Regions from separate parts of the Homo sapiens genome. Here regions 1 and 3 are each linked to region 2. Evidence: fine-mapped expression QTL. A gene starts in region 2. Each other region holds a variant in brackets. All regions are shown on one strand. Distances are between the middles of the regions. Region 1 overlaps RFX1 (regulatory factor X1). Region 2 holds the start of DCAF15 (DDB1 and CUL4 associated factor 15). Region 3 overlaps RFX1 (regulatory factor X1).

The links.
Region 1: its variant is fine-mapped to the expression of DCAF15 in whole blood (TOPMed, PIP above 0.99).
Region 3: its variant is fine-mapped to the expression of DCAF15 in tibial artery (GTEx, PIP 0.94). The same link has a PIP of 0.9 or more in atrial appendage.

What each region holds. Positions count from the first base shown.
Region 1 is chr19:13,982,537-13,990,536 of GRCh38, forward strand. It overlaps RFX1 (regulatory factor X1), which reads right to left. Exons shown (of 21, transcript NM_002918.5): 3 at 950-1,059; 4 at 651-734. Among named protein-coding and RNA genes, the nearest start is that of RFX1, 20 kb to the right of the region's middle. RefSeq lists enhancers at 420-946, 2,705-3,596, 3,623-3,672, 4,488-5,378. The variant C/T (reference allele first, on the strand shown) is at 4,102.
Region 2 is chr19:13,945,982-13,956,281 of GRCh38, forward strand. DCAF15 (DDB1 and CUL4 associated factor 15) reads left to right here and starts at 6,528. Exons shown (of 13, transcript NM_138353.4): 1 at 6,528-6,663; 2 at 8,359-8,456; 3 at 8,545-8,680; 4 at 9,931-10,037; 5 at 10,142-10,281. The coding sequence starts at 6,532. It also overlaps a transcript of PODNL1 not described here. RefSeq lists an enhancer at 5,901-5,950 and a silencer at 6,611-6,750.
Region 3 is chr19:13,972,579-13,980,578 of GRCh38, forward strand. It overlaps RFX1 (regulatory factor X1), which reads right to left. Exons shown (of 21, transcript NM_002918.5): 6 at 7,995-8,000; 7 at 6,869-6,964; 8 at 5,414-5,508; 9 at 165-549. Among named protein-coding and RNA genes, the nearest start is that of DCAF15, 24 kb to the left of the region's middle. RefSeq lists enhancers at 6,922-7,448, 7,449-7,975, 7,976-8,000. The variant T/G (reference allele first, on the strand shown) is at 4,067.

The sequences.
Region 1 (8,000 bases), 35 kb after region 2:
CTCACACCTGTAATCCCAGCACTTTGGGAGACTGAGGCGGGCAGATCACCTGAGGTCAGGAGTTCGAGACCAGCCTGGCCGACATGGTGAAATCTTGTTTCTACTAATAATACAAAAATTAGCCAGGTGTGGTGGTGCACACCTGTAGTCTCAGCTACTCAGGAGGCTGAGGCAGGAGAATCACTTGACCCTGGGAGGCGGAGGTTGCAGTGAGCCGAGATCGAGCCATTGTAAAACCCAACAGTACTTTGTCCAGATCTGCGCTGATCAGTCGGAAACGGGTGTGCGCGGCACCTCATGCGCAGCCTTCTGGGGGACAGACCACCCTGTGCTGGCTGTGGACTCCTGACTCTAAACCTGGCCTTGGGTTCTCTGCTTCGGGACACTGGGTTGGACCCGCAAACCACCTTCCCAACTATACATCTTGTTCTCTCTGCTGAGATGGCTCCTGCAGCTCCTCTGTCCCTGATGGCCCCTGCCGGATAGTCTCACCCTGGGGAGGTGACTGCCCAGAGCCAGGAGGTAGGGCAGCCCCTGGATGGGGACTCTTCCCTCCATCCTGGTGAGGACAGATCCAGGCTTGCCACAGGGGGTTGGTCCTCCACCCTGAGGGAGCCTTCCAGGGTGGTGGCCAGGTGCAGCAGCATTACCTGCTGGGGCACTTGGATGTTGGTCAGCTGGAGGGGCGACACGTGGCCTGGCTTGGCCTGCACGCTCGTCTGGACCAGCAGCCGCTGTGGAGACAAGGCAGGAGGAGCTGAGCTGCCACTTCCCCCAGGGAGGCCTGGCGTGGTTGGGTGGCGGGCGGCTGCTGTGCACATCTTGATAAGAACAGGTGAGCAGATGGCTCCAGCAGGAAGCGGGGAGGGGAGGTGAGGCCCCCGAGGACGCAGCCTGCACTGCCCCCCTCCCGGGCCCTCCCCCACCCCCTGGGAGGGCCACATCCTACCTGCTGGGTGCCCTGCACCTGCTGAACCACCTGAGTAGGAACGCCGGTCTGGCTGGCGGTGGAGCCGGGGCTGGCCTCCGACACTGTCTCGCTGGCCCGCATGGCACCTTCTGTGGGGAGGGGCCACCAGGTCAGTTCTTCCTGCTTTCCCTGCCCCCAGCCTAAGCCTGAGCCCCCCTGGAGGGGAAGATGCAGCCTGAAGCCAACCCCCAGCAAGGTCAGGCCCCTCCAAGAGTCCTGCTTCCCCCTGGCCAGCCCTGACTGCACCCATCAGGGGCCCACGTGGCAGAGCGGGCTGAGGCTTGCAGGACCCAGGATCCTTAATACCTGGCAGCAGCCCTCATCAGCTTTCCTCATCCTGAAGTCAGACCAGATAGGGTGACTGAAGAGCTATGATGCTCAAAACCCAGAAGGCTGGACCCTTCCCAGCAGACGGGACTTGTGGACAGGCAGGGAACTGACTGTCCACTCCAGGGTCCTGGCAGCGCTGGAAGGATCGAGGTGCTGGGGCCACCTTCTCTGGGGTGACCCTGGCTTCCCGGGAGTGGAAGCTGCTCGGAGGAGTGGTCCCTGGAAGGTCTTGCTAGCCTGTGGCCAAGTCCTCCCTCCCTGCCCCTCTGTCCTCAGTGGGGTGGGGACCACAAGGGGCTTGGAGTGGGGGAGGCAGGTACTCACGCTGACAGGCAGCTGAGAAGAGACAATCATAGAACATGGTGCTCATCCCCTCCCCCACCCCACCCGCCCCCCACCCCGTCCGCCTGTCCGTCCAGGGGGGCCTGCCTGGCCCTCTTTGCTCCTTGCCTGCCTCTATAGAACAGCAGGGTGTGCAGGTGGCTTTATACCCACGACCTTGGGGCGCTAATCCCCCCGGTGGATGCAGAGAGCCTGCCTGCCCTCTTGGAAAAACACTCCCCTCCCCAGCAAAGCGGGGCCTTCGCGGGGCTGGGGCAGCGCTGCGGGGTGAGGAGGGAGGTTGGTACCCGGAGATGCTATCAGGCAGGCACAGGTCAAATTTCATGCACATCTTGCTGAGTGATTAGCAGGGGTGCTGGGGGTAGAGGCGAGTGTTCCCAAGAGGCGCTGGCTAGAAGACCCTCACCCCAGCTGGGACACCATCCATCCCATCCCCTCCATGTGACCTGGCATACCCCCAGCAGCTCCAGAGGCCGAGGTGGGGCTGGGGGTGGACATGTACCTGCCCTTCCTCCACCATCAAGGAGCCAAGGTCCCAGGCCCACCTTTCTTGGGGATTTAGAGGGGTTTATCCGACCCCCGGCAGGACTGAAGGGCCACGGGCAAGGAGTTATCACTGCAGACACTAGTGTTGCTTCTGGCACACTAGGTGTTATGTTAGACTCTGGACAGCCAGAGATAGAGCTTTTTTGTTTTTTTGAGACAGGGTTTCGCTCTGTCACCCAGGCTGGAGTGCAGTAGCACGATCTTGGCTCACTGCAACCTCTGTCCCCTGGGGTTCAAGCAATTATCCTGCCTCAGCCTCCCAAGTAGCTGGGACTACACGCATGCACCACCATGTCCGGCTAATTTTTGTATTTTTAATAGGGACTGGGGTCTTGCTATATTGCCCAGGCTGGTCTCGAACTCTTGGACTCAAGCAATCCACCTGCTTCCATCTCCCGAAGTGCCGGAATTACCGGCGTGAGCCACTGTGCCTGGCTGACAGTAAGAGCTTTCCGGGATTTTTTTTTTTTTTTGAGACAGGGTCTCACAGTTGCCCAGGCTGGAGTGCAGTGGCGCAATCTCTGCTCACTGAAATCTCCGCCTCCCGGTTCAAGTGATTCTCCTGCCTCAACCCACTGAGTAGCTAGGACTGCAGGCACCCGCCACCACGCCCAGCTAATTTTTGTGGTTTTAGTAGAGACGGGGTTTTGCCATGTTGGCCAGGCTGCTCTTGAACTCCTGGCTTCAAGTGATCCGCCCGCCTCGGTCTCTCAAAGTGCTGGGATTACAGGCATGAGCCACTGCACCTGGCTGACAGTAAGAGCTTTTATTACCCATTTTCAGACAAGGCAACAGAGACCAGAAGCAAGGAAGTGATCTGTCCAAGGTCAAATGCACCATCCACCGTGCAGGCCATGACGCAGGTTCCCCTCTGGGCCCACACGAACCTCATACCACATATGGAACCGGAGTCACTGGTTCTGCCTGGGCTGCGCCCCAAGGGCAGTGATGTGTGAACTTGGGTATATGGGCACAGGAAGGAAAGTAAGCTGGGGGTCTACGGGGACCCCTCAAAGTCTGAAGTATCCAGACTGGGTCTCGGCTGTCCAGGCAGGGCACAGGAGGGAGAGGGGCCTGGACAGGGCAGGAGGGCTATTCAGGGCAGATGCAAAGGCCAAGTCAAGGGCAGAGCGCAGGAGTGTGTGTTGGGGGCGGGGGTTGCCAGATGTGGGAGGTGTTGGGGGAGGCCTCCGCGTAGCCGCATGTGGGCTGTGGGGCATTTGGTCAATCCCATGCCTGCCTGACCAGCTACCTGTGCAGCCAATTCCACAGGCCCTAATCCCTGTGTTTTGCTGGAATCTTCCCTGGCATCTGCTTTAGGCTTCCCAGCCCTGAGCCATAAGGGAGGAGGCCCTTGCTGAGAGGGCCCCTCCTGGGAGAAACCCGAGACAGCCCCGAGTCATGTGACCGGCACTGCACACCTGGGTCCGTGGGGTCCAAGGACTCAGGCCCAGCCTAAGGGATGGTGTCTCACCCAGGAAGCTCAAGGTGGGCAGGGAGTGGGGGGCTGGCCCCCCACCCTCTCCAGGGCTCAGGGGCTGGTCGCTGAGCAGGACCTACAGCAGGAGGAGGCCTGGGGACCTGCTGAGACCAGGTGGCTGTCTCCAGGAAGCAGCCTTGCCCGTCTCCTGCCTCTGGGGTAGCCCTCAAGGCTGGGACCCCGCCTGCCAGCCCAGGAGGGCGCCAGGGGATGCGCCACGAGGCTAACAGGTGAGCCTGAGTGACTCATGCGGATGAGGGCTTCCTGTGCAGCCATCCCTGTCTGCCTGCGGCCGGGGCAGGGCCCCTCCACCACTGGGTCTGGCCCTCGCTGTGTTTCAGGGAGGAGAAGCCAGGAGGGGAAGTGGGGGGTGGCACTGAGTCTGCGAGCGAGCGTCTGCATCTATCTGCCGGAGATCGCCACTCTGGGCATG[C/T]GCAGGAGGCCAGGGAGGCCCCCACTGTCTCAGGAAACGGCGGCCGATTTCCTGTCTCTGAATCTGACACATTAACATCTCTGAGCAGTGGAATGACTCTGACAAGTGGGCACCCATCCTCCCCGGGCCCCGCACTTCCCCATCTAGACCTACTCAAACCTTAAATGAGCTACTTGGGGGAGCCCAGGGGAGGCCCTAGAGGCTGGACTCCTGGCATCCACCCTGGGGGCCTGGCCCCCTTCCCCATAGACAGATGGGGCCACCTGACCCTCTGCCTCCTGCCCCTGGGCTCCCTGGGATGATGTCAGTCAGGGGCTCCTGGAGGGGCCCCTGCTGCCCCCAGTGTCCTCTATCCCTTGTCTGCTCCAACCTCAGTTTCCCCATCTGTGCTTGGGAATGCTGACAAACACACTCCACTTCTCTGTCTGGACACAAGTCTTCTTGGCCCCCCTAGAACTCCAAGTGAGAGAGAAGCAGGGAAGAAGGGCCGGACTCGGCCCCTCCTTCGGGGCGGCCCCTGTTCCCTGCAGGCCGGCTCGGTTTCACCTTCCCAGGAGTGGCTGCCAGAGCCCACAGCACTCTCCTTCCGCCTTGGGTTCTGGGAGAGTCTGATGGCCTCTGAGGACAGGGATTTATGGATCTAGTATTGTTCCTGACCAGGGAAACTTGATCTTCCTTCCTACCACCTCCAAAGTCACCTTTAGGCAGGGCAGGCAGGGACCGGGGCTGGGTGAGCTGTGTCTGGTTTGGTGTCGGCTGGTGTCCAGCCCCAGGCTCCAAGTCTGGGTCCAGGCCCCTCCCTTCCTCTTCCCTGCCACCTCCCTGGGTCCCTGGTCAGCTCCGATTGCTCCTGGCTTGGGAGAAGTCCTAGGTGCCTTGTGGCAGCCTTCACTGGTGTCAGTTACTCCTGCTTCCCCGGCGCTCACGTGGCCCCGGCCACCCTTAGATGAGGAAGGACGCTAACCTGGCAGAGGGTCAGGGAGGAAGGCTGGGGAGTTACTGCAAGGGGTGGGGGAGGGGACAGCTGGCAGGGCACAAGCCAACCTCCTCTTCCTCAGAACAAATCCAGGAAGCATTGCCCAGTGACCCTTCTGGGGACAGGCTGGCACCTGCCAGAATGTGGAGTGGCAGGGAAATGAAATTCCCTGGGACCACTGTGAAAGGCGACTAAGCTACCGCCTGACCAAAGTGAGCCCCAGAGAGTTCTGTGGACAGCAGGGTTGCTACAGCCTGCCCTCATGGGTACAGAGTACCCTCCTGGGAACACTACCAAGATGGGGGAGACAGAGGCCACCTCCCCATGCCTAACAGCTACTTAGAGTCCGGCCTAGCTCTGTCTGACCCAAAGACCATGCCTTGCTCTTGACTTGCTCTTGACTTCTTGCTCTTTTTTTTTTTTTTTTTTTTGAGACAGAGTCTTGCTCTGTTACTCAGGCTGGAGCGCAATGACATGATCTCGACTCACTGCAACCTCCACCTCCCAGGTTCGAGCGATTCTCCTGCCCCAGCCTCCCCAGTAGCTGGTGCTACAGGCACACGCCAACACGCCGGGCTAATTTTTGTATTTTTATTAGAGACGGGGTTTCATCATGTTGGCCAGGCTGGTCTTGAACTCCTGACCTCAGGTGATCCGCCTGCCTCAGCCTCCCAAAGTGCGGGGACTTGGTCTTGACTTTGAAGCACCAGGGCCCCCCTGAGGGAGTGCGGGAAGAGCTGGAGAAGCCAAGGTCAAGAGTGGAAGGACTTGGGGAGTGGTGGAGCCTGGAGCTGTGTGCCCACTCCAGACCCTGGCTCTAGGGAGCCTGGACCCTGAAGCAGGTAAGACCCACACCCAGGGCGTGGATCAGGACCCATCAGACACTCTGGGCGCCAAGCAGAGCCATCCACTGGTGACATGCGAGGCCTCCTGCAAACAGTCAGCCATGCAGGAGCTGATGGGACATGATGGCTGTGCTAGGTGCTCCTCTAGGCTGTTCTGGGTCAGGCTGGTGCTCCTCAGTCATTCCACAGAGACTGAGCACTGACAGAGCCCTGCCTGCAGGTGGGCACCCCCACCATCCCATTATTGTAACTTCAAGTAGTGTTAAGTGTTAAGAAGACCAGCGGGGCGCAGTGGCTCACACCTATAATCCCAGCACTTTGGGAGGCCGAGGCAGGCAGATTACTTGAGGTAAGAAGTTTGAGACCAGCCTGGCCAACATGGCAAAACGCCATCTCTACCAAAAAATACAAAAATTACCCTGGTGTGGTGGTGCGCCCCTGTAATCCCAGCTACTCGGGAGGCTGAGGCAGGAGAATCGCTTGAACCCAGGAGGCAGAGGTTGCAGTGAACTGAGATCGCACCACTGCATCCGGCCTGGGTGACACAGCGAGACTTTGTCTCAAAAACAAACAAACAAGAAGACAGAGAGTGAGCAATGGGGGTAGGGGCAGGGAGGTGTGGAGTCAGAAAGGTAGTGTCTGAGCAGCGACCTAAGGGAGACAAGAGGCAAGCTCCCAGAGGGTCTGGGGCAGGGAGTGCTCCTGGCAGAGGGTACCGAGAGTGCAAAGGTCAGGAGGCAGGACTGAGCCTGGCGGGTTTGTGGAGCTGTAGGAAGGCAAGAGGGGCTGGACCAGGTATGTGAGGGGATGGGTGGAAGTGGGCGAGGCTGGGAGGCTGGCAGGCCAGAGTTGAAGGGGCTTGACATTTGCTAGTAGGGGCACAGGGTGTGTGGAGCATTTTTGCATTTTGTTTTTGTTTTTTTGTTTTTGAGACGGAGTTTCACTCTTGTTGCCCAGGCTGGAGTGCAATGGTGCAGTCTTGGCTCACTGCAACCTCCACCTCCTGGGTTCAAGCGATTCTCCTGCCTCAGCCTCCCAAGTAGCTGGGATTACGGCGCCCACCACCACACCCAGCTTAGAGAGAGAGAGAGAGAGACAGACAGACAGACAGACAGACAGACAGAGAGAAAGAGAGTGTGTGTCTGTGTGTGTAGCTTTTAAAGTCCTTTTTTGTCAGGTATCGGGGGAGGGGAAGGAGCCTGCTCTCCCAGAGCTGAGAAAGCCTAGGCTGGGGTTTCTCAAAGAGTGCCCATGGAACCACCTGGCTTGGAGCCATCAGGGTTGAGCTAGGATGTGACGGGACCTAATGGACAGTTGTGAACCTGCTCCCTCTGGCTGCTGGGAGGGGTCAGACTGTGAGGGCGGAGGCTCGACCAGGATTGGGGTCATAGAAGTGGAAGAGGCGGGGGGGGTTCTGGAAGAGTTTAGGAGGTGGAGCCGAGAGGTCTTACTCAAGGAGGAGTAGGACAGAAACAAGACTGACCGTGGGCCTGGGAGGATGAGAAAGCCTTGAAGGAGAGATTTGAAGAGGGAAAAATGCAGAATTCAATGTGGCTGCACTGGCCTGCATCAAATTCAACACCAAGTGGATGAGTCAGGAGGGGCTGGATGTGGGGTCCTGCGGTTCAGGGTTGCAGCCCAGGCTGGAGACCTCAGTGTGGGTAATGAGAGCTGGGACACAGGATGAGGCCATCGTTAAGGGAGAACTACAGGAGCTAAGAGAGGTTCCCAGGTCTGAGTCTGGGGCTCCCCGTCCTTTGCTGACAAGGTCAGGGAGATGGGGAGAAGCAGCAGAGAGGACCACGGAGGGGCTGCGGGCGGTGGGCGGAGACCAGGGCAGTGTGGGCTCCTGGAGGCCTCACAAGAGGGGATCTTTGGGAAAAAGGGGGCCAGCTGCAGGGGGTCCAGCAGCTGGAGGTTCCTGGAGAAAATGGGGGCTTGGCTGGGCGCGGTGGCTCACACTTGTAATTCCAGCACTTTGGGAGGCTGAAGTGGGAGAATTGTTTGAGGCCAGGAGTTCAAGACCAGCCTGGGCAACATAGTGAGACTCTGTCTCTACAAAAAAATTAAAAGATTAG
Region 2 (10,300 bases):
GCCTGGGTGGAGTGCCACTGCACTCCAACTTGGGCAACAGAGCAAGACCCTGTTTCTAAAAAAGAAAAGAAAGGAAATGGTGGATACACACTGCTAACTTCAAGGGAGGATGAGAAACACCATCTTTCTACTGGGAAGCCACATGTTCAGATAAAAATGGAGTTTCTTGGCTGGGTACAGTGGCTCATGCCTGTAATCCTAGCACTTTGGGAGGCCGAGGTGGGCGGATCACGAGGTAAGGAGTTTGAGACCAGCCTGGCCAACATGATGAAACCCGTCTCTACTAAAAATACAAAAATTAGCCAGACGTGGTGGTGGGTACCCGTAATCCCAGCTTACTTGGGAGGCTGAGGCAGGAGAATTGCTTGAACCTGGGAGGCAGAGGTTGCAGTGAGCCAAGATCGAGCCATTACACTCCAGCCTGGGTGACAGAGCAAAACTCTGTCTTGGAAAAAAAAAAAAATTGAGTTTCTATCACTACTGCATAAAAGTGGGATGACCTGTAAAAAGGAAGCAATGAGGAGTTAGGACCACAAGGAAAATTGAGCCCAAGGCTTTCTGTGTTCAAAGCCACTGGTCTCCAAAGTTGGGTGTGGGAAATGAATCATAATTTCTAGTTCTATTTACCTGCCCCATCCTGTTTTATGGCCCTTTTCCAGGTATGATTTAATTCACAGGCTAGAAAGAGTGGTCTAAATGCACCTGTATAGTTGGGTTATTTGTAAACAAATACATATACGTATTAAGGGAGAGTCCAAGTGACGAACGATCAGAAATATGGGAAATCTTGGCTAGGTGCAGTGGCTCACGCCTGTAATTCCAGCACTTTGGGAGGCCGAGGTGGGCGGATCACGAGGTCAGGAGATCAAGACCATCCTGGCTAACATGGTGAAACCCCTTCTCTACTAAAAACACAAAAATTAGCTGGCCGTGGTGGTACGCACTTGTAGTCCCAGCTACTCGGGAGGCTGAGGTGGGAGAATTGCGTGAGGCTGGGAGGTCGAGGCTACAGTGAGCTATGATCACACCACTGCACTCCAGCCTGTCTCAAAAAAAAAAAAACACAAAAAAACAAAAAAAAAACACCATAAAAACACCTTTATAATAATTGTTGTAGGCGGAGGTTTCAGTGAGCCAAGATTGCACCACTGCACTCTAGCCTGGGTGAAAGAGCAAGACTCCATCTCAGAAAAAAAAAAAAAAAAAAAAAAAAAAAAGGCTGGCCATGGTGGCTCATGCCTGTAATCCCAGCACTTTAGGAGGCCAAGGCAGGTGGATCACCTGAGGCCAGGAGCTCAAGACCAGCCTGGTCAACATGGCGAAACCCCGTCTCTACTGAAAATACAAAAATTAGCTGGGCCTGGTGGTGCATGCCTGTAATGCCAGCTATTTGGGAGGCTGACGCAGGAGAATCACTTGAACCCGGGAGACGGAGGTTGCAGTGAGCTGAGATCGCACCATTGCACTCCAGCCTGGGTGACAAGAGCAAAACTCCACCTCAAAAAAAAAAAGAAAAAAAAAAGAATTGAGGTAAATTGCAGGACATCATGTTGGTGTCCACCAAGAATTGGGGAATTACTTGATTTGGGAGAAGCTGCCCCATCATCTGGTGTCAGAAGCGAAGGATTGAGAGTGATGTGATATAGAAGGAAAAACAGTCTGTTTGTCCCATGTACGTATTCAACTGACTTGGGCCAAACTGACTTCTCCCTAGTCTTCCTCATATCAAAAAATGGCACTAACATTTTGCTAAATATTCCACTCAGATGCTAAAGTCATCATTAACTTCTCTCTCCTTGCCCCTATCCCAATATCTTGTCCTTGAAAATGACCCCATCGGCTCTGACTATGGCCACTTTTCTCCATTTTCTTTCTTTATTTTTATTATTATTTCTGAGACAGCGTCTCATTCTGTTGCCCAGGCTGAAGTGCAGTGGTGCGATCATGGCTCACTTGCAGCCTTGAACTCCTGGGCTCAAGCGATCCTCTCACCTCAGCCTCCCAAGTAGCTGGGAGTACAGGCTCAGGCCCTCATGCTAATTTCTAAAATTTTTATAGAGATGGGATCTCACTATGTTGCCCAGGTTGGTCTCCGGGGATCAAGGGAGACTTTAAGCAATCCTCCCACTCAAGCCATCTCCTGCCTTGGTCTTCCAAAGCACTGAGATTACAGGCGTGAGCCACCACGGCCAATATTCTCCATTTTCTTTTCTTTTCTTTTCTTTTTTTTTTTTTGAGACGGAGTCTTGATCAGTCGCCCAGGTTGGAGTGCAGTGGCGCAATCTCGGCTCACTGCAAGCTCTCTGCCTCCCAGGTTCATGCCATTCTCCTGCCTCAGCCTCCTGAGTAGCTGGGACTACAGGCGCCCGCCACCACGCCCGGCTAATTTTTTTTTTTTTTTTTGTATTTTTAGTAGAGACGGGGTTTCACCATGTTTAGCCAGGATGGTCTCGATCTCCTGACCTCCTGATCCACCTGCCTCAGCCTCCCAAAGTACTGGGATTACAGGTGTGAGCCACCATGCCCGGCCGTATTCTCCATTTTCAATGCTAGTAGATTAATCTAAGTCAGCATCACCTACCCTCCTGGCTCCCCCAAGACTATTCCTGCCCCCATCCTCATCCCCCAAGACCATTCTGCACATAGCAGTCATAATAACATCCTCCTGGCCGGGTGTGGTGGCTCACGCCTGTAATCCCAGCGCTTTGGGAAGCCAAGGTGGGAGGATCACGAGGTCAGGAGATCAAGACCATCCTGACCGTCCTGGCTAACATGGTGAAACCCTGCCTCTACAAAAAAAAAAAAAAAAAAAAAAAGCCAGGCATGGTGGCAGGCGCCTGTAGTCCCAGCTACTTGGGAGGCTGAGGCAGGAGAATCACTTGAACCTGGGAGGAGGTTGCAGTGAGCCAAGATGGTGCCACAGTCCTCCAGCCTGGGTGACAGAGTGAGACTCTGTCTCAGAAAAAAAAAAAAAAATCCTCCCCCATGCTCTTTTAAAAACTTAGAGTTTATTTATGTGTTTATTTATTGACACAGAGTCACGCTCTGTGTCACTGAAACCTCTGCCTCCCGGGTTCAAGCGATTCTCATGCCTCAGCCTCCTGAGTAGCTGGGATCATAGGAGCCCACCATCAAGCCCAGCTAATTTTTGTATTTTTAGTAGAGACAGCATTTCACCATGTTGACCAGGCTTGTCTTGAACCCCTGTCCTCAAGTGATCCGCCCGCCTTGGCCTCCCCAAGTGTTGGGATTACAGATGTGAGCCACCGTGCCTGGCCCCTTTGAATTTTGAAACAACATTATTTTATTTTTGTTATTTGTAATTTTATTATTATTATTATTAAAGACAGGGTCTTGCTCTGTCACCCAGGCTGGAATGTAGTGACGCCATCACAGCTCACTGTAATTTCAAACTCCTGGGCACAAGGGATCCTCCCGACTCAGCCTCCCACGTACATAGGACTACAGACGTGCTACCACACACCAGACTAATGAAAAAAAAATGTTTTTTCATTGTAGAGACGAGGTCTTAACAGTTGCCGAGGCTGGTCAAATTCTTCTCAAGCCATCTTCCTGTCTCAGCCTCCCAAAATGCTGGGATTACAGGTGTGAGCCACTGTGCCCAGCCTGAAATTAGACATTTTCAGATCTGCAAAGAAGGTACAGAGAGTTCTTTTATTCCCTTCACTCAATTTCCTCTAATGTTTTTTGGGTTTTGGGTTTTGGGTTTTGTTTTGAGACAGGATCTCACTCTGTCGCCCAGGCTGGAGCGCAGTGGCTCAATCTCCGCTCACTGTAGCCTCCAGGGCTCGGGTGATCCTCCCACCTCAGCCTCTTACGTAGCTGGGACTGTAGGTTCACGCCACCACACTCCGCTAAATTATTTATTTATTTTTTTTTTGAGAGTCTTGCTCTGTCACCCAGGCTGCAGTGCAGTGGCGTGATCTCGACTCACTGAAACCTCCACCTCCCAGGTTCAAGTGATTCTCCTGCCTCAGCCTCCCGAGAAGCTGGACTACAGGCGTGTGCCACCTGAGATTACAGGCCCGGCTAATTTTCTGTATTTTTAGTAGAGACGGGGTTTCACTGTGTTAGCCAGGATGGTCTCAGTCTCATGACCTTGTGATCTGCCCACCTCAGCCTCCCAAAGTGCTGGGATTACAGTCGTGATCCACCATGCCTGGCCTTGTTTTGTTTTTTATTTGAGACAAGGTCTCGCTCTGTCTCCCAGGCTGGAGTGCAGTGGCACCATCATAGCTCCCTGCAGCCTTGACCTCCTGGGCTCAAGTAATCTTTCTGCCTCAGCCTCCCGAGTGGCTGAAACTATAGGCGTGTGCCAGTAGAGTCAGTGAATTTCTTTGATGTTTTGTAGAGATGAGGGTTTCGCCATGTTGCCCAGGCTGGTCTTGATCTCGTGGGTTCAAGTGATCCTCCCTCCTCTGCTTCCCAAAGTGCTGGGCTTACAGGCATGAGCCACCGCACCTGGCCTGGTCATGTATTTTGAGAACCTTCTTCAATCTGGGATAAATGTCTGATGTTGTCTAATGGTTAGATTGAGGTTCTAGGTTTGGGGATAATATCAGACAGTTACAAATGTCCTCCCTATCACATAGCTGGGGTCCGTGATGTCAGTATGACTTATCACTGGTGATGTTGATTTTGATCACTTGGTTAAGGCAGTAGCTGCCAGGTGTCCCCACTGTCTTGGAGACAGCTTTGCTCTCCATGGACGTAGGGTATGCAAGAAGCAGGGGAACCTTTGGCTAAAGATACATTGTGATGGCCGGGCGCAGTGGCTCACGCCTGTAATCTCAGCACTTTGGGAGGGTGAGGTGGGTGGATCACTTGAGGTCAGGAGTTTGAGACCAGCCTAGCCAACATAGTGAAACCCTGTCTCTACTAAAAATACAAAGATTAGCCGGGCATGGTGGCACATGCCTGTAATCCCAGCTACTTGGGAGGCTGAGGCAGGAGAATCGTTTGCTTGAACCCGGGAGGTGAAGGGTGCAGTGAGTTGAGATTGTGCCATTGCACTCCAGCCTGGGCAACAAGAGCAAAACTCCATCTCAAAAAAAAAAAAAAAAAAAAAGATATGTTGTGATATTGTGTTGTGATATATTTTTAAAAAACCATATTTTGGTCTTAGGTTTTCTAGTACATAACTCCTAAAACCCTTGAAATCAGCTGGGCACAGTGGTTTATGCCTGTAATCCCAGCACTTTGGGAGGCCAAGACGGGATGATCCCTTGAGGTCAGGAGTTTTCGAGCAGCCTGGGCAACATAGTGAGACCCCATCTCTACAAAAAAAATTTTTTTAATGAAGACAATAAAAAAAAACTATCTTCTAGATTGTTCAGAGGATTAAATGGGCTGGCCAGGGGTGGGGGCTCACACCTGTCCTCCCAACACTTTGGGAAGCAGAGGTGGGAGGATCACTTGAGCCCAGGTGTTGGAGACCAGCCTGGACAACTTGGTGAAACTCCGTCCCTACAAAAAATACAAAAAATTAGGCCGGGCGCGGTGGCTTATGCCCGTAATTCCAGCACTTTGGGAGGCCTAGGCGGGCGGATCACCTGAGGTCAGGAGTTCGCAACCAGCCTGGCCAACATAGTGAAACCTCGTCTCTACTAAAAATACAAAAAATTAGGCAGGCGTGGTGGCGCACGCCTGTAGTCCTAGCTACATGAGAGGCTGAGGTGAGAGGATCATCTGAGCCCGGGGTCGAGGCTGCAGTGAACCGTGATCACGCCACTGCACTCCAGCCTGGGTGACAAAGTGAGACTCTGTCTAAAAAAATAAAATAAATGAGGTAATGTATACGAATATGATGCACGGAGCGGACCTTCAACAATTATTTTTATTGCTATGATCTGCATAATTGGCACAACAGGGCCCTGCCACATCGAACTGTTTAAGCTCAGAACCGTGTCTGTCACATGTGGAGCGATCCATGATTGATGCTATCATTATCACCACCATCATCCCACCAACCCGCCCATCGGAAACAAGCTTTCATCGAATCCCATCGTTTTTTCCTTTTTTGTAAATCTCTTTCCTCGGCCTGGCTCTGCCGCCCAAGTATGCTCGTCAGGCCTTTGCCCACCTGGACCGGGCGCGGGCAGCCCGGGGCTGAGGATTCTCGAGCCTTGGTGGACCACAGGCTCCCGTCGCCCCGCCCAAGGGCCTGGACCGCCTGTGGTCTCCATGGAAACCCGCCAGCCACAGGGGGCGTGACGCCGTTGAGACAGACAGAGATATTCACCTATCAGATCAAAGTTATCTGGGCAGGGCGAACAAACGGGACCTCCGAGTGGTACGTCCTTAAGGCGGGGCGGGAATACGGCAACGGGCCGCGGGGGCTGTTACTGTCGCTACCAATCAAGAGTCGAGATGGCTTTGATGGACAGGCATAGCGCGAGTGCGGGCTTTCGCCCAACCGGCGGGCCGCTGTCCCGAAAAAGGACCAATGAGGAGGCGGCAGGGGTGGGGCGAAGGGGCCGGTTGCTCCGGAAGTGGAGGGAGGGGGTGAAAATGGCGCCCAGCTCGAAATCGGAGCGGAACAGCGGGGCTGGGAGCGGCGGCGGCGGCCCCGGGGGAGCCGGAGGGAAGCGGGCAGCAGGGCGGCGGCGGGAGCACGTCCTCAAGCAGCTGGAGCGGGTCAAGGTGAGGCCTGGAGCCGGAGTGGGGAGCGCGCCGGAGGGTGGGGAGTAGGGACGAGGGAGGCGGAGGGAGGAGGGCGTTCGCGGGGTGAGGGGTTGGGGGCGGGGCCCCAGGGGAGGGGGCTCGGATGCAGGGCCTGGGCGGGGCCCGGGGGAGATGGCTTGGATGGAGGGGGCTCAGTTGGGGGCCTGGATGCAGGTGGTTGTGTCGGGTGACCGGCAAAGGGGCTGGGATGGAGGGGGTTGGGGGCGGGGCCCCAGGGAGGGGGCTCGGAGGGAGGCGACCCCAGAGGCCGCAGGGAGAATCAGGAGGAAGGGGGCGATCCAGGCTTTTCAAAGCTCTGCTCCCATGGTTGCTCCATAATGGAACCTTCCCGCCCCCTTTGCAGAGCCCCTGCCGCTGGCTTTGGGCTTCCTCCGCCTGATGTTCCTCTCCCTGCCCAAGCCCCGACCACACATGAGCTGGGAGTTCCAGTACCTGGGTGGGCCTCCCCATTGAAAGTGTGGGAGCTCCCTGGATAGGGCTGAGTCTTCCCCCGCAGAGTGAGAGTTACCGAAGCAGGCTCTGTCTCCTCCATCAGACTGGAAACTCCCAGAGCTGGGGGATGATGTCTCTCTCCCCCATCAGTTTGGGAGCTCTGGAGGGCAGAAATGTGGATCTCTTGCAGGTGGGCAGTAACTGGGGCAAGGCTGTGTCTCTGTGGACAGGGACTGCGCCTTCTCCGTGAGGCTGGTAGCTTTGTAAGGGCAGTGCTGTGTCTCCCCCTTTTGACTGGGAGCTCCCTGGGCTGGGACAGTCTCCGCCCTTAGCCTGGGAGCTCCCTGGGCTTGGCTGTGGTTCCGCCCTTAGCTTGGAAGCTCCTTGGGCAGGGACTGTGTCTCCCCTGTCGGCCTGGGCCTGGCTGGCCAGGCTGTTTCCTCCGTCAGACTGAGACCTCCATGTGGACAGGGCTGTCTCCCATCAGACAGGGAGCTTCCCAGACAGGACTCTTCCCATCAGATTGGAATGTCTTGAAGGCAGAGTTGGGTAGCAAGACTGAGGCTGTTCGGATATCCCTGTGCCTGGCTTCTGCCTGTCAGTCCCCGCAGATCCTTCCGCGGTGAAGTTTTGGGGATGAGGGATTCCCTTGGATTCCGTTGGAAGGCGGTAGTTAATTGGGAAGGGGGCGTTGGGTCATTGGTTAGGCTCACCCTTCTATCTGCCTCGACTGGCCCCCAGCAGAGGCCAGAGCTGCCCCGGGGAGGAGGAGCCCCCTTGTTTGAAGGCTGGTGGGTTGGGAACAGATGGGTGCAGGTCAGGACTCTGTCCCAGCCTCCTTAGTAGGATAAATACCCACAGCTTAGGGACAGCCTTCAGGGAGGGAAGCAGGTGGCCCAGCGTGGGACAGGGTGATTGGGGAACTTTCTTGGGGGCGGTGACGCTGGGCTCAGTCAAGAGGGACCTGAGGCTGAAGAGGTATGGAACTGGGAAGGTGGCCTGGGTCCCTGGTGGAGATGAAGGCTCAAGCGCGGTCCATCTGGCTTTACTGTCCCCATCTGCCTCAGTTGTTCCCACCTTCCAGAGCTTGGCCTTCTTTTGACCATTATGGTGGGCTGGGCCGGTCTGGACCCGGTGAGAGCCGCTCTGCCTCTCTGCCGTGGGTGAGGGGGCTGGGGGCTGCAGATGGTGCCTGAAGTGCCCTGGCCACCCCTTCCCCAGATCAGCGGACAGCTCTCCCCTCGCCTCTTCCGGAAGCTGCCTCCCCGGGTGTGCGTGTCCCTCAAGAACATTGTGGATGAGGACTTCCTCTATGCAGGGTGAGGCTGGGCCCAGGCAAAGGGGGCAGGTGGGCGGGAGTGGTGGGCTCGCCCTGACCTGGCCGCTGTGCCCCCTCCACCCCCACAGACATATCTTCCTGGGCTTTTCCAAATGCGGCCGCTACGTCCTCTCCTACACCAGCAGCAGTGGGGATGACGACTTCTCCTTCTACATCTACCATCTGTACTGGTGGGAGTTCAACGTTCACAGCAAGCTCAAGCTGGTAGGGAGGCTTCAACACCAGGCTGGCCCTTCAGATGGTGTGGTTCAGCAGGTCACAGCAACCTCTGAGCCTCAGGTTCCTTGGGTGTAAAATGATCATCATGTACTCCTGGGGTCATCATCAAGATTCCATGTGTTAGATCCAACCATATGAAATTACCAGGGCCTGGCATGGTAGCTCACACCTGTAATCCCAGCACTTTGGGAGGCCAAGGCGGGAGGATCACTTGGTCCGAGTAGTTCAAGACCAGGCTGGGCAACATGGCAAAACCCTGTCTCTACTAAAAATAAAAAAAAATTAGCTGGGCATATTGGCGTGTGCCTGTAGTCAGCTCCTCTGGAGGCTGAGGCAGGAGGATCACCTGAGCCCAAGAGTTTGAGGCTGCAGTGAGCCATGATCACACCATTGCACTCCAGCCTGGGCAACAGAGTGAGACCCTGTCTCTAAAACAAAACAAAACAAAACAAAACAAATGAAGGCTGGCCACAGTGGCTCACGCCTGTAATCCCAGCACTTTGGGAGCCCGAGGTGGGTGGATCACCTGAGGTCAGGAGTTCAAGACCAGCCTGGCCAACATGGTGAAACCCCATCTCTACTAAAAATACAAAATTAGCCGGGCATGGTGGCACATGTCTGTAATCCCAGCTATTCCGGAGGCTGAGGCAGGAGAATCGCTTAGAACCTGCGAGGTGGAGGTTGCAGTGAGCCGAGATCGAACCACTGCACTCCAGTCTACAGAGCAAGACTCTGTCTCAAAAAAGAAAAAGAAATTACCATTTTTATGGTTCAAAATGGGTAAATAGCAGCAATTCCATTTGGTTCAACACACCCTATGAAGCTGTAGAACATGTTGGCTCAGGCCAGTTAGCTTTATTAGGACCAGGCCACCCTGGCTTTAGCCTTGACCCTTGACTCCTGGAACCCCCCCAGGAGGTGTGCTGTTACCTCAGCATACATGTGAACTCAGAGAGCTGAACGGGCTTCAGGGTAGGCTGGGCTTGGAACCAGTGCCTGGCGCAGTCTCCCCCGGGACATTGTTCCCATCGGCTGCATCCCACCCTGGCCTGGTCTCCCCGACTGGTGAAAGGAGCCTCCACGGCTGTCCTCAGGCAAGGTGGAGGGGTGTGGCGGGTGCTGTTGGGGTGCTCCTACCCGCTCAGCCCCAGCCCTGATGAGGGACTGCATCGTACAGCTTCGGGGGACCTCCGCAGTTTCCCTGACCCGGTGCTGCCCCTGAACGTGCCTCACAGGTCCGGCAGGTTCGGCTATTCCAGGACGAGGAGATCTACAGCGACCTGTACCTGACCGTATGCGAGTGGCCCAGCGACGCCTCCAAGGTCATCGTCTTCGGCTTCAAGTGAGACCAGGCGCCTGGGGGAGCCTTGGCTGGTTGGGGCAGGGGGTGTGCAGTGGGGGCCCCCCAGGCGCCGACCAGGCAGCTGAGGGTATGCTGGCCCCCAGCACCCGCTCGGCCAACGGGATGCTCATGAACATGATGATGATGAGTGACGAGAACCACCGTGACATCTACGTCAGCACCGTGGCCGTGCCACCGCCAGGCCGCTGTGCTGCTTGCCAGGATGCCAGCCGAGCCCACCCAGGTGAGGGGGCCGAGGGGGC
Region 3 (8,000 bases), 25 kb after region 2:
GGCCACACAGCATTCAATCCCAGGACATCTGCATATGTTCTCTTCATTGGGGGCCACACAGGCTCCTGCTAGCGGTGGTTGGTAACCACCGTCATGGACTGGGCTTCTAGTGCCCACCACCCACCACTGCCTGCCTCCTCTGGGGCCCGCGTTGGGGCACTTACCGTGGCTGGCGAGGCACGGGTGGTGTGAGAGTAAGACTGGCTGGCACTGCCCAGCATGTAGCCGCCTTGGATCACGTAGGTGCCTGCTCCGCTGCCGCCGCCTCCGGTGCTGCCACTGCCACCCCCGCCACCGCCTCCCCCGCCGCCGCCGCCACCACCACTGCCACCACCTCCGCTGCTGTTGCTGGCCCCAGCCCCAGTGCTGGTGGAGCTGGCGACGACCTGGCTGCCGGACACGTACATGGGCATGGAGCCACTGCTGGCCACCGCCTGGGAGGTGGCGGGGGTGCTGACCTGGGTGGCCGTGCCTGCGGCCTCGTAGTAGCTGGTGCTTGCCGTCTGCGTGTACAGCGGCGTCTCGGGATAGGAGTAGGTGCTGGAACGGCTGGGAAAGAGGCAAAGCCAAGGGAGAGTCAGGGGGATGAGAACTGGGGGGCCGAGGGGCATGACTGTGCAGGAAGGGGGGTCCTAGGAGGGGACTGGGGAAGCAGCAGCTCCCCTGCAGCAAGGAGCAGATCCTAGCATTCATCTACAACGGACTGGGTACCATCCTGAGTGCTTGATGGGCAGTATTTCATATAATCATCAGCTGGGCATGGTGGCTCCTGCCTGTAATTCCAGCACTTTGGGAAGCAGAGGCAGGAGGATCGTTGAAGGCCAGGAGTTCAAGACTAGCCTGGGCCACATAGTGAAAACCCATCTCTACAAAAAATATGAAGATTAGCCAGGCATGCTGGTGCACACCTGCAATCCCAGCTACTTGGGAGGCTGAGGCAGGAAGATCCCTTGAGTCCAGGAGTTCAAGGTTGTAGTGAGCTATAACCATACTACCACTGCAGCAAAGCCTAGGTGACAGTGAGACTCTGGCTTTTTATTTTTGTTATTTTATTTATTTATTTACTTATTGAGACAGAGTCTTGCTCTGTCACCCAGGCTAGAGTGCAGTGTCGCAATCTTGGCTCACTGCAACCTCCGCCTCCTGGGTTCAAGCTATCCTCCTGCCTCAGCCTCCCAAGGAGCTGGGAATACAGGGCTCACCACCACACCAGGTTAATTTTTGTATTTTTTTAGTACAGTTGGTGTTCCACCATGTTGGCCAGGCTGGTCTCGAACTTCTGACCTCAAGTGATCCACCCGCCTCAGTCTCCCACAGTCCTGGGATTACAGGCATGAGCCACCACACCTGGCCGACCCTGTCTTTTTAATTAAAAAAAAAAAAAAATACCGAAGGGTTAGGGAACTTGGAATGCTACACACTTCATTAAAAAAATAAAATTGGCAAGTACTTCGAGTGCCTACTGTGTGCTAGGCACTGTTTCACACACTTTGGACACAGCAATGGACAAGAATGAAAAGCCCCGGCCCCCGGAACCGTCTAGTTGGGGAGACAGGCAAGAAGCCACGTGCAAAGGTAAATGAGAGATCATAACAGAAGGTGATCAGGCAGTGAGTGAAGCAGGAAGGGGGTGGGGCTAGAGAAGGCGATGCTGTGATTGGAAGGGACTAGAGAAGGCGACGCTGTGATTGGAGAAGACCATCAGGAATGCAGATATGTTTCCCCTGAGCCAAGCTACCTATCCCAGGCTGGGGAAGCCTCTCTCCTTCAGATATCGCGTGACGGGATGGGCACCGGTGACACAGGCTTGAGGCTGCAAATCGTCACAAGTATACAAGTATAAAAACCACCAGGGGTTCAACCTCAAGGGGCTGTTAAACAAAAGATGATGGAATCCTATGCAGGGGTGAAAGAGAAGGAGGCAAGGCTTGTCGTCCCCCGAAAGAACAAGCTCCAGAACCTAACACCGGGCAGATAAGAGGCAGAGAAGAGTGGGGACCGTGTGACCGAACAATAGGGAAGAATGCGTTGCATGTGGCATGCGTGTCTGTCATCTGTGGGCATGGAGGGCTCCGTCGAGGGGGACAGGCAGGGGGCACCTCTCACCATCTCGCTAAACATCGTTGGACATAGTTTTGATCTTTGAACTCTTTCAATGTACTAGTGATTAAAAACATAGCATTAGGCCAGGTGCAGTGTAATCACACCTGTAATCCCAGCACTTTGGGAGGACGAGGCGGGTGGATCACTTGAGGTCAGGAGTTCGAGACCAGCCTGGCCAACATAGTGAAACCGTCTCTACTAAAAATACAAAAATTAGCCAGGCATGGTGGCAGGCGCCTGTAGTCCCAGCTACTCAGGAGGCTGGGGCAGGAGGATCACTTGAACCTGGGAGGTGGAGGCTGTAGTGAGCTGAGATCATGCCACTGCACTCCAGCCTGGGTGACAGAGTGAAACTCCACCTCAAAAAAAAAAAAAAAAAGGGAGGGGGGCAGGGGCAGGCACGGTGGCTCACACCTGTAACCCCAGCACTCTGGGAGGCCAAGGCGGGTGGATCACCTGAGGTCAGGAGTTCAAGACCAGCCTGGCCAACATGATGAAACCCTCTCTCTACTGAAAATACAAAAAGTTAGCCGGGTGTGGTGGTGGGCGCCTGTAATCCCAACTACTCGGGAGACTGAGGCAGGAGAATCGCAGGAGAACCACCCTGAAGGTGGAGGTTGCAGTGAGCCAAGATTGCACCATTGCACTCCAGCTGTGCAACAAGAGGGAAACTCTATCTCAAAAAAAAAAAAAAAAATTAAACATCCAGAAAGACAGTGTGGTCAGTCAAGAGGTGGCCTGGCTCAGACTCTGAAGGTGGCAGGGGAGGGAGCCGCACAGGCCCGAGTGGTTGTGGGTGAACAAAGAGAGGGAGTTGAGGGGGACAGTGGAAGGAGATATGGAAGCATGGTCTTTGTCACACATCAGGTCCAGCTCTCGATCTCTCTGTCCTGCCCTATGTCTACCACACAAAGTGACACCAAGAGCACATGACCTGAGCAAGAGCCCCTACTTCTCCAAGGCGGGGGCCACAGCCTGCTCACTCCTGCACACCCAGCATGCAATGTGTGCTGCAAAAAGGTTGCTTTGGTAGATGGTTGCTGAATGACTGAATAAATGAATGTGTGCAGCTCTGGATGCCCCCCAGAACAGGACCAGGGATGGAGGCCCAGGGGCTGTGGCTTTGGCCAGGGTGGGGATAGGGCTGGCAAAGGGTCGGGAACTCGCAGTAATTCACTCAGAGGGAGAGACAGAAGGGGTGGGCAGCTGACAGCAGGAGTGGCCCCCAACAACTTCTCGTAGCAGAAAAACCCGATAGCAACGATGAACTAGGTGCAATCACACACACTATGATCACTGAGAGAGGAATTCAGACAGAAGCAAAGGAGAGACAGGAGAGACGCTACCAGGGATGGCAGCAGGAACCCTTGGACACCGTGTTCCTCTTTGCAATGCCCTGTCTGGCCCCTGCCAGCTTGGCTCAACCACACAGTGAAAAGATTAGCAGCACTGGAAAGAAACAAATGGAACTGTGAGGTAGCCGGACGCCGGGGACCAAGCCTCACGATTTAGATGCCTGGACCAGGCCCACTGGGGTCGGTCAGAGCATCATGACCCTAGGACTAAGTCGATCCATGAGCTAACCAATCCCAGCATTGTCCCCAGAAGAACAAGTGGCAGGGATGAAAAAAGAAATCATGCAAATGCAAAGAAAACCAAGTGAAACCTCTGGAAACTAAACCAACAGTAACTCTAGTACTGCAGCAATTTCTGTGGAGATGGGAGAGGGAAGGTGGCATGGAGGACCCCCGGCGAGGAGCCCGAGCCGGGACTGAAGCGGGGCCAGGACGTGGCCCCTGCCTGACACGGCCCATACACAGGAATGGTAGTGCTGTACCCAGGGAGGGGAAGAAGCCCCCTATGCATCACTGGGTGGGGACTGATGACATCGTGGCTGCTGCATCTGCACAGGGGTTATTACACAGCAGCTAAGAGGGTGACCAGGACCCACGAGGACACATGG[T/G]AGAAGAGCCAGGAAAGAAATAAGGTATGGATGGAATGTCCTGCGTCTATTTCTGACCACAGAAAGCGGGTAGAGGCTGGGCACTGTGGCTCATGCCTGTAATCCCAGCACTTTCGGAGGCCAAGACGGGAGGATCATTTAAGTCCAAGAGTTCGAGGAGATGAGCCTGGGCAACGTGGCAAAACCCCATCTCTACAAAAATACAAAAATTAGCTGAGCATGGTGGTGCACACCTGTAGTCCCAGCTACTAGGGAGGCTGAGGTAAGAGGATTGCTTGAGCCCGTGAGCTGCAGTGAGCCCTGATCGCGCCACTGCTCTCTGGCCTGGGCGACAGAGTGAGACCCTGTCTCAAAAAAAACAGAAAAAAAAAGTCCAGTGCGGTGGCTCATGCCTGTAATCCCAGCACTTTGGGAGGCTGAGACGGGTGGATCACGAGGTCAGGAATTGAAGACCAGCCTGACCAACATGGTGATACCCCATCTCTACTAACAACACAAAAATTAGCTGGGTGTGGTGGTGTGTGCCTGTAATCCCAGCTACCCGGGAGGCTGAGACACGAGAATCACTTGAACACAGGAGGCAGAGGTTGCAGTGAGCCGAGATCACACCACTGCACTCCAGCCTGGCGATAGAGCAAGACTCCATCTCAAAAAAAAAAACAAAAAAAAAGAAAAAAATGGATAGAGGGCTAGAGTTTCTGTTCTTAGAGTATCTCTGGAAAGAAACAAAGAAACAGGTCACAGCATCCTCTCTGGGACAGGGTTGAGAGTCAAATGATTTTTTTTTTTTGAGATGGAGTGTCACTCTATTGCCCAGGCTAGAGTACAGTGGCACGATCTCAGCTCACTGCAACCTCCGCCTCCTGGGTTCAATCAATTCTTCTGCCTCAGCCTCCCGAGTAGCTGGAATTACAGGTGCCTGCCACCACTCCTGGCTAACTTTTGTATTTTTAGTAGAGACAGGGTTTCACCATGTTGGCCAGGCTAGTCTTGAACTCCTGACCTCAAGTGATCTGCCCGCTTAGGCCTCCCAAAGTGCTGGGATTACAGGCGTGAGCCACCGTGCCTGGCCTTTTTTTTTTTTTTTTGGTTAAAAACCAGGCTCATTTGACTCCCAAGCCCTAAGCTATGCCGGGGTGCCTTTCCCAACCTTCAAGGGTCCCTCTGCTTCGCCACTTTTCGTGGCTGTGGCTGCCCCTGGGGAGTGCCCACCTGTGTGTCTGTCACCTGAGGCCTTGAAGGCCGGATGGCCTGCTGGGGGCTGGGACTGGGGACTGGTGTCCTGGGAGACTGGGGAGGCTCCAGTGCAGACCTGACTCCCTCACCCACCCCTCTCCCTTCACTTACATGGCACTGGCCGTGTAGCTGGCATCGCCGCCCTCCACATACTGCACCTGGCTGGAGTACACGTGTGGGACGGGCACCTGCTGGAGCTGCTGCACCTGGGGCAGAGGAAGGGCACGTGGAGGGTCAGGGGTGGGCCAGCTCCTACGGTTCTCCCTCTAAAGGGCTGGTGCCCACCCAGGCTATCCCTGACGCCCAGCTCCCGGACCCAAGGGTGGCTTCTGGACTCTCAACAAAACACCCTGGAGGAGGCCAGGGCTGGGAATCAGGAAGAGCTGTGTCAGGAGAAGCCAGGACTCTCGGCTTCGGCTGGGGCCAGCAAGGGTGGGGCCTGACGGACAGTGGAGGGGACCCGAGACAGGGTCCTGTAGTGGGCGTGAAGGTTGGACCCCAGGCACAGGGGCAAGGCTATCGCTGGAGCCATGGAGCTACAGAAAGGGCCTCAGGGGTGGGGCCTGGAAACCGGGCACAGGATGTGAGGGGCGGAGCCTGGGGCCCCGGTTGGTGGGACAGAACCTGGAATCACTGACAGGGCCTTAGGGGCGGGGCCTGAGTCCCCCACCTCCATCCCCCACCCTTGTCTGCAGGGGCGGAGCTGGGACCTGGACGGGGCTTGGGTGGGGAGTCAGAGGCGGGTCCCTAGACCGACCCGTCGGGCGGAGGTGGGGTCTACAGGGCTTGCGGGGCCTGGTGGGCGGCCCAGACTGGGCGCCCCCGCCCCCGCCCGCCCGCTGCCCCCCGCCCGTGCGTCCGCCACCTACTTTGAGGGCCGTGGCGGCCGTGCCGAACACTAGCACCTGGGGGATTCTCTGGATCCTGACCCTCTGGTCGGGGCTGGCTCGGGCCGGGAGCCGGGACAGTGGCTCGAAGACCACTTTCTGCTGCGGCAGGAGCAGGTGTGGGGGCAGCACGCCCACCAGCTCCACCCACTGCTCGGCGCCCGGCTCGTAATGGGGCGGCGGCGGCTCGGGGCTGCCTAGCTGCGGGGCCTCGCCGCTGCACGCGGGCGGCCGGGGCGGCGGCTCCGGCGGCGGCGTGGGCCGGGGATCTCGCTGCTCTGCCTTCCTAGCGGGAAACTGACTGCCTGAGCTCTGGAGGACAAACAGAGACACTGGGGGGTCAACGGGGGCGGCCGCGGGCGGGGCTCCAGGCCTCCACCCACCGGGTTGCTGAGCGCGCACGCAGCCACCCGAGGGAAGATCCCCGCCGCCCGGGGTCTCGGAGAGGGGTTAGAACTGACCCAGGGCCACGCAAGAAAGAAGAGGGGTTTGAATCCAGATCTCTCTTAGCAAAACCTGGACCCTGAGCTGCCAGGGGGCCGGGAAAGGGGAAGGATGTAGGGCAGTGTCTGCAGCTCACAGAGGCATTTCCCTCCCTGCGGCCTCAGGGGCCTGCACTCCCCAGCCCCAGCCCGGGACCAGCCCCTTTGCCCGTGGGGTAGGAGGGGGAGACACACACCTCTTGAGCCACGTGGACTGGCTGGAGGCCCTGCACGGTCAGCGGCTGCACCGGGCCGGGTTTGGGCGCTTGTGGAGTGGCCTGGACCACAGATCTCTGGGAGGGGAAAGGCAACAATAAGATGACCATGGCAACGATGGCCGTCAACCTACCCAGCCCCTGCACAGGTGAGCTTCTGTAAAGCTCACAGCAGACCCATAAGCAAGAGGCCACCATTCTCCAGCCAAGCAAGGAGGGTGCTGGATCCATTACTGATAAAGTGAGGCTCCCAGGAAGCAGCAGGGCTGAGTTGAACCTGGGACTAACTTCGGGGTCTCTGCTCTCCGCCCCCTCTCCCTACGGGCCCCTGAAGCTGTGCCAAGAACCCGCAGGCAAGGCCTTGGGTTATCTTTCGTCCCCACACCCCCCAATGTCAACTGTGTGCCCTGTTCTGTGCTGTGGCGGGCATGCGGGGATTATCCTAGGGGCGCAGAGCCAGGGACGGAGGCTGGCGGAGGAGGGTGCTGAGTGGAGGAGCTGGGGCCTGGACCTAGGTCTGGAGGTTCGGGGGGGCTCTAGTGCCAGGCGGGGGAGTATCTGTGAAACCTCTGGGACAGGGTTTCTGTTTACACTTGGGGAAGGGTCTATGGATTTCATCTGTTTTTTCAAGGGGCTTGGAACCCCCTCAACTTCAGTGGTAACAACCAGATGGTGCGCAGCCCCAGCATCTTAACCTGCGCCGGCTCAGGGCTCTGCCTCCTGCAGAGGCTGGGTGTGGATTTGGGGGCTGGGTCCCCTCCCTGAAATCCTCCCCAGAAGGAGCCAGGATGTGGCCTCGGGGCTTCCTTCAGGCAAATGGGCCCAAAGAGGCTCAGGTGGCTTCTCCAAGCGGTTCCCATGGCCCACTACGCCCCAGTCTCCTTCCAGGAGGTTCAAATTTCGTCCTCCCCGCGGCTCCCCCATCCTCTAGCCCCAGGATGCTGAGTCTGGAGACAGGCAGAGATGCTTATCAAAGGCCAGGGTGGCAGGCTGGGGCTGGACCCACATGGGCTGGGCTCTAATAGGCCAGAGGCACAGCCGTGGGGGGCTGCAGAGGCTGCCTGGCCGGTACCCCTGGACCGAGCCACTGCCCGCCTTGGCCTGGCACCTCTTG